Regions from separate parts of the Homo sapiens genome. Here region 2 is reported to be linked to region 1. Evidence: microRNA targets listed by miRTarBase, many of them from high-throughput screens and not tested one by one. Region 1 holds a microRNA gene; the other region holds the end of a gene's coding sequence.

What was found. The annotated mature microRNA hsa-miR-6738-5p reads CGAGGGGUAGAAGAGCACAGGGG and lies in region 1 at 1,112-1,134, shown strand. An mRNA with a match to its seed (bases 2 to 7 or 8) in the 3' UTR can be bound and repressed. Matches are read on the target gene's strand: a 7mer-m8 pairs with bases 2 to 8, a 7mer-A1 pairs with bases 2 to 7 and ends in A, and an 8mer does both.
Region 2: miRTarBase lists RPL7L1 as a target of hsa-miR-6738-5p. Seed matches in the 3' UTR shown: 7mer-A1 at 3,318-3,324.

The regions. Positions count from the first base shown.
Region 1 is chr1:155,949,044-155,952,442 of GRCh38, reverse strand. MIR6738 (microRNA 6738) reads left to right here and starts at 1,107; the gene lies at 1,107-1,170. ARHGEF2 (Rho/Rac guanine nucleotide exchange factor 2) reads left to right here. Exons shown (of 22, transcript NM_001162383.2): 16 at 208-327; 17 at 457-524; 18 at 667-702; 19 at 910-960; 20 at 1,171-1,614; 21 at 1,961-2,144.
Region 2 is chr6:42,885,655-42,889,053 of GRCh38, forward strand. RPL7L1 (ribosomal protein L7 like 1) reads left to right here. Exons shown (of 6, transcript NM_001366481.3): 5 at 320-429; 6 at 602-3,399. The coding sequence ends at 810. Among named protein-coding and RNA genes, the nearest start is that of PEX39, 3.5 kb to the right of the region's middle.

The DNA.
Region 1 (3,399 bases):
GCTCCATATCGTCCATGCTGCATGGACTCTGCTGCCTCGTAGGCATTTACTGCCCTTTACCTCATCAGTGGTTGTGTGAGTGAAACCCCACTGCCAGTGCAGGGGGCATTCCCCCAGATGCCCAAGTGTCCCACATGTGGGGGTGAATGGCATTCCCCTCAGGGTCCTGTGTCATTCCTGTTCTCACCTCTTCCTCTTTCCCCACAGTGGAGGGTCTGAAAGACCTGCTGGTGGGGCCAGGAGTGGAACTGCTCTTGACACCCCGAGAGCCAGCCCTGCCCTTGGAACCAGACAGCGGTGGTAACACGAGTCCTGGGGTCACTGCCAGTGAGTACCAGGGCAGGGGACCAAGGTAGTAGGTGGGAGGGGCCAAAGTTAGTAGAGTGGTACCAGGGATCAAGTGGTATCAGGGCCCCAGGGAAGTGAGCTCAGCCATCCTTTTCTCCTTCTCAACAGATGGTGAGGCCAGAACCTTCAATGGCTCCATTGAACTCTGCAGAGCTGACTCAGACTCTAGCCAGAGGGTAGGTCCTCAAGAGGTTCTGGGACTTGGCAAGAGGGTGGGAGAGGGACAGCCAGCCTCTGGATCCTCAACACAAAGCTGTCAGGGGCAGGCACCCAGGATTTGTGTGCCTGCTGACTCCCCATTCTTGCCCATTTCTGCAGGATCGAAATGGAAATCAGCTGAGATCACCGCAAGAGGTGAGATGGGAATTGATGGTATAGGAGACTGAAGGGAGGATGTTCTTAGTCTGAGTAGTTAGAGCCCAGTTTGGAGTGGGGTGGGGAAAGCGTCTACATTCAAGTATGTCTCCGGATCCTACTGTCCCCACACCCACCCTTGTTCAACTTTTGGGCAGTTCTCCCATCCTAAAGCTGGGGCCCTGTTCCCACCCTGTCTGTCCTCAGGAGGCGTTACAGCGATTGGTCAATCTCTATGGACTTCTACATGGCCTACAGGTCAGTAGGACAAGGGCTTGAATGGGGAAGGGGAGGAGCCAGGCTAGAGATGCCTGTTTAGGTGGGGCATGGTCATCCCAACAGGCCTTTCTAAATACCCTCCCAATCCAAGCTCTCCAGGAGCGATGATCTGGGCCTTGGAGGGTGAAGGCGAGGGGTAGAAGAGCACAGGGGTTCTGATAAACCCTTCTGCCTGCATTCTACTCCCAGGCAGCTGTGGCCCAGCAGGACACTCTGATGGAAGCCCGGTTCCCTGAGGGCCCTGAGCGGCGGGAGAAGCTGTGCCGAGCCAACTCTCGGGATGGGGAGGCTGGCAGGGCTGGGGCTGCCCCTGTGGCCCCTGAAAAGCAGGCCACGGAACTGGCATTACTGCAGCGGCAACATGCGCTGCTGCAGGAGGAGCTACGGCGCTGCCGGCGGCTAGGTGAAGAACGGGCAACCGAAGCTGGCAGCCTGGAGGCCCGGCTCCGGGAGAGTGAGCAGGCCCGGGCACTGCTGGAGCGTGAGGCCGAAGAGGCTCGAAGGCAGCTGGCCGCCCTGGGCCAGACCGAGCCACTCCCAGCTGAGGCCCCCTGGGCCCGCAGACCTGTGGATCCTCGGCGGCGCAGCCTCCCCGCAGGCGATGCCCTGTACTTGAGTTTCAACCCCCCACAGGTAAGGTGGCCTGCAGTGGTGAATGGACCTGGGGTGGACATAAGGGTCCATGGAGCCCGAAAGAAATTGGGCCATTGGGGATTTGAGCCCAAATGCAATCAGTCAACTGACTTGAAGGATATTGAGATACTGGTTGGAGAACTGAAAAGAAATGTAGATGGGTGCAGGGGTGGAGGAAATTAACTCGGGTCGTGGTGCTGAAAGAGGCCAGTTGGTGGTGGATCTCCTGAAGGGGACTCATGGGTGAGCCCCAGGGGGGAGAGCTGCTGCCTTCAGCCAAGCAGAACCTCCAATCTTCACACTACTCAGTCCCTGACCTGCTGTTCTTCCTGCCCACTGTCCACAGCCCAGCCGAGGCACTGACCGCCTGGATCTACCTGTCACTACTCGCTCTGTCCATCGAAACTTTGAGGACCGAGAGAGGCAGGAACTGGGGAGCCCCGAAGAGCGGCTGCAAGACAGCAGTGACCCTGACACTGGCAGCGAGGAGGAAGGTAGCAGCCGTCTGTCTCCGCCCCACAGTCCACGAGGTGAGACCCTGGCGGAGACATGGACCAGAGGTAGAGTGCAGCCTGGGTACAGGCCATTGGGCTGTGGCTTCCAAATGGGCCCTAACTGACCTGTGAGGCTTGTAGTAACTCTAGGGAGGGACTTCCTGTTTTGTCTGATGATGAATGGGTGGTGGAAGTCTAGGAAGCAGGAGGGGCCTCTCTCCTCCAACTGGTTGGTGATTCCCAACCTTTAGAAGTAAAAACAGATTCTTTTTTAAAAAGGCATGGCGGCTCAGGCCTGTAATCCTAACACTTTGGGAGGCCAAGGCAGGAGGATCGCTTGAGCTCAGAATTTTGAGGCCAGCCTGGGCAACATAGTGAGACCCACCTTCTCTACAAAAAAAAATTCATTTATTTATTTTTTTATTTTATTTAATTAATTTATTTCATTATTATTTTTTGAGATGGAGTCTTGCACTGTTGCCTGGGCTGGAGTGCAGTGGCGTGATCTTGGCTCACTGCAACCTCTGCCTTCCAGGTTCAAGCGATTCTCCTGCCTCAGCCTCCCAAGTAGCTAGGATTACAGGCGCCCACCGCCACGCCCAGCTAATTTTTGTATTTTTAGTAGAAATGGGGTTTCACTATGTTGGCCAGGTTGGTCTTGAACGGCTGACCTCGCGATCCACCTGTCTTGGCCTCCCAGAGTGTCGGGATTACAGGCATGAGCCACCACGCCTGGCTAAATTTTTTTTTTTTTTGAGATGGAATTCTCACTCTGTCGCCAGGCTGGAGTACAGTAGTGAGATCTCCGCTTACTGCAACCTCCGCCTCCCAGGTCCAAGTGATTCTCCTGCCTCAGACTCCCGAGTAGCTGGGACTACAGGCACATGCCTCCACGCCCAGCTAATTTTTGTATTTTTAGAAGAGATAGGGTTTCACCATGTTGCCCAGTCTGGTCTCAATCTCTTGACCTCATGATCCGCCTGCCTTGGCCTCCCAAAGTGCTGGGATTACAGATGTGAGCCACTGCACCCGGTCTATTTTATTTTATTTTATTTTATTTTATTTTATTTATTTATTTATTTAAGATGGAGTCTCACTCTGTCACCCAGGCTGGAGTGCAGTGGCACAATCTCAGCTCACTGCAACCTCCACCTCCTGAGTTCAAGTGATTCTCCTGCCTCAGCCTCTCGAGTAGCTGGGATTTACAGGCATGCACTACCACACCTGGCTAATTTTTTTTGTATTTTTTAGTAGAGATGGGGTTTCACCATGTTGGCCAGGCTGGTCTCGA
Region 2 (3,399 bases), not on the chromosome of region 1:
AGTAGAGGGTCACCTAAGGCCAGAGTCGTAGCCCCTAAGGTAAGCTAGGACATGGTTTCTGTTTTGTTTTTGTTGGCAATATTTTCCCTGGTGAACATTTACATCCATAAATTTAAATTTCTAATTATGTAAGTGGGGTCACTTCAGTTCTTTATCAGGAGTATTTCCAAGCATTTCAGCTGGAATGTGATTGCAGAACACTTGCTCGTTGGGAGAAGTGAGTGTGTGGGAGAACCTCTCCAACCTCTCAGCCAGGCTGCAGGACTGGTATGTAGTGTGCCAGGTGCTGGTGAAAACCGTGCTTTATTTTCCTACATAGATTTCCAAATCTGAAGTCTGTCCGAGAACTCATTTTGAAACGTGGACAAGCCAAGGTCAAGAATAAGACCATCCCTCTGACAGACAATACAGTGATTGAGGAGCACCTGGGTGAGTGCTACAGCTTAGGGATCAGCTGGGGCAGAAAGCCAGGGTCTTTGAAGCTTTGATGTGAGATTCAGGTTGTATTCTTCTTGGGGCCCCAAGAGTCTGCCAGAGTGGCCAGCTTAGTATATGCTGGATACATGTTAAATAAAGGAATCTGTGCTTTTGTGTTTCTTAGGGAAGTTTGGCGTCATTTGCTTGGAAGACCTCATTCATGAAATTGCCTTCCCAGGGAAGCATTTCCAGGAGATCTCATGGTTCTTGTGCCCTTTCCACCTCTCAGTGGCCCGTCATGCTACCAAAAATAGAGTGGGCTTCCTCAAGGAGATGGGCACACCTGGCTATCGGGGTGAACGCATCAATCAGCTCATCCGTCAGCTGAACTAGACCCAGGTGAGGCAGGGCTGAAAACTGCCCTTGGGCTGACTTTTGATAGGCCATGCCTTGCCACTTTACAAGTTCTTTTTGCATTTACTAGTATTTAAGAGTAACCTTGAGATTGGGAGGAATAGAGGAGGCTGGTACAAATAGATGGAGACCTGCTGGGATCAGTGAATGCCTGATTAGGACATGGGGCTATGCATAGCCTAAGAGTTATAGGCTTAAAGATGTCGAGTAACTAAAAACTGTATTGCTGGCCGGGCGCGGTGGCTCACGCCTGTAATCCCAGCACTTTGGGAGGCCAAGGCGGGCAGACCATGAGGTCAGGAGATTGAGACCATCCTGGCCAACATGGTGAAACCCTGTCTCTACTAAAAATACAAAAATGAGCTGGGTGTGGTGGCGCGTGCCTGTAGTCCCAGCTACTCGAGAGGCTAAGGCAGGAAAATCGCTTGAACCCAGGAGGCAGAGATTGCAGTGAGCCAAGATTGCACCAGTGCACTCCAGCTGGGCGACAGAGCGAGACTCCATCTCGGAAAAAAAAAAAAAAAAACTATTGCTGCAGTCATTCAGATGGAAATGAGGAAAGAATAATATTAATAACTGATTTCAAAAAGGACTTGAAGATGTGAATCATCTATTTTGCTGAAGAAATCTTAACTCTTTGAAATTACTTTTTATTGCTGTTGTCATACTCTTAGGTGCCAAACTGCGGTAAATTTTTTATCAGTGAAGTGGAAGCATGTGTTTTGTTTTGGAAATTTTTATCAAGTATCTTCAGAGAAGATTATTTCCTGCTTTATCTTCAGAAACTGGAAAGGGTCAAAGAAAAGACAGTAGCTGGCCGGTCGTGGTGGCTCATGCCTGTAATCCCAACACTTAGGGAGGCTGAGGTGGGCAGATCACCTGAGGTTGGGAGTTCGAGACCAGCCTGACCAACATGGAGAAATGCCATCTCTACTAAAAATACAAAAATTAGCCGGGCATGGTGGCACGTGCCTGTAATCCCAGCTACTCAGGAGGCTGAGGCAGGAGAATCGCTTGAACCTGGGAGGTGGAAGTTGCAGTGAGCTGAGATCACGCCATTGCACTCCAGCCTGGGCAACAAGCGAAACTCTGTCTCAAAAAAAAAGAAAAGACAGTAGCATATGTTCATGTCAAGCACCTCTCATCACAGTCGAGTTCCAAGGAAAAATTCCAGTGTTTTCTGCATTGGGTGCTGTGTCATCTGAAATCGGCACATTCCATGGAGGAAGGAGTCCTGCTTTGTTGCATGTATCCTAGGGTTTAATGTTGGTAAATGAGTCACTCTAGCATTTGTAGAAGGCTCCCTGAGACTCCTGCAGCAGTCGACCAAGCCCAAGGACATAATTGAATCTGGAGAGTCCTGGGGCCTTGTTTTGAAAAAGACTTGAAATACACATAGGAAGAAAGGCATAAAAATAAATGTTCACTTGTCTCTGCTGTGAGTATGTGTTCCAACTTTTCAGTGATGGCTTTGAGAATTCTCAAACTTGACTGGCTCTAAGTGTATCTGGTGGCTTTTGTATCGTAACCTGAAACTGGCTTAGTACTTTTTCCTAAAAGCTCAGGATTTGAGAATGAGGACCCCTTCGCCAGGAAAACATGTATACACTCAAAATTTTGCTTGCAGTTCTAGGGTGTTTAGACCCTTCTCAGATACCTGTGCATCTTATGGGTTTTGTTTTTCTCTTTGAGACAGTCTCACCCTGTTGCCCAGGCTGGAGCGCAGTGGCATGATCTCAGCTCATTGCAGCCTCCACCTCCTGGGTTCAAGTGATTCTGCCTCAGCCCCTTGATCAGCTGGGATTACATGCATGTACCACCACACCCAGCTAATTCTTGTATTTTTAGTAGAGATGGAGACAGAGTTTCACCATGTAGGCCAGGCTAGTCTCAAACTCCTGACCTCAAGTGATCCACAAGCCTGGGCCTCCCAAAGTGCTGGGATTACAGGCATGAGCAACTGCGCCCAGCTCTTGTGTACCTTATGTGAGGAAGTCCTGCTCAATCAGGATCGGTCACGCAGGCCCTGATCTTGCTACTCTGGTTCCATGTCCTATGGAAGACCAAAGTTTACCAAGATAGATTTTTCCCTTCATAGTGGCAGATAGTGTTAACCCCTGCACCATCTGTAACTCAGAAATCCCCACCATTTCTTCCCCTGGGCTTCAGAATAGAATTGCCTGGTTTCTCTGATGATCAGCATGGTTCCTTAAAACCCAAATCAGCAAGGAATGAACAATTTTGTTTGGCATGGATGAAATTAGCACTGTTTGGCTCGTTAGGCCCCAGGCAGGCAGGCACCTTAATTTTTTCCTTGCATATTCTAGTCTTCAGAAGCATTGCCTTTTGTCCTACTGGTAGTGACATAGACCAATAACAGGGCATCTGGGGATTTTAATCCTGAAAACAGTGAGTCTGATACTGCTTGTGTTTTTCATCAGTGTCCACCCCAAGTGGGTCTTCCTGCTATTCTCTTCACTTAGTTGCCCCTCACTTGCCATCTGAGCAATTGGCAAGGATGTGCCAGGCCTAGGTTAAACTTGGAAACATGCTTGACCATTCTATTCC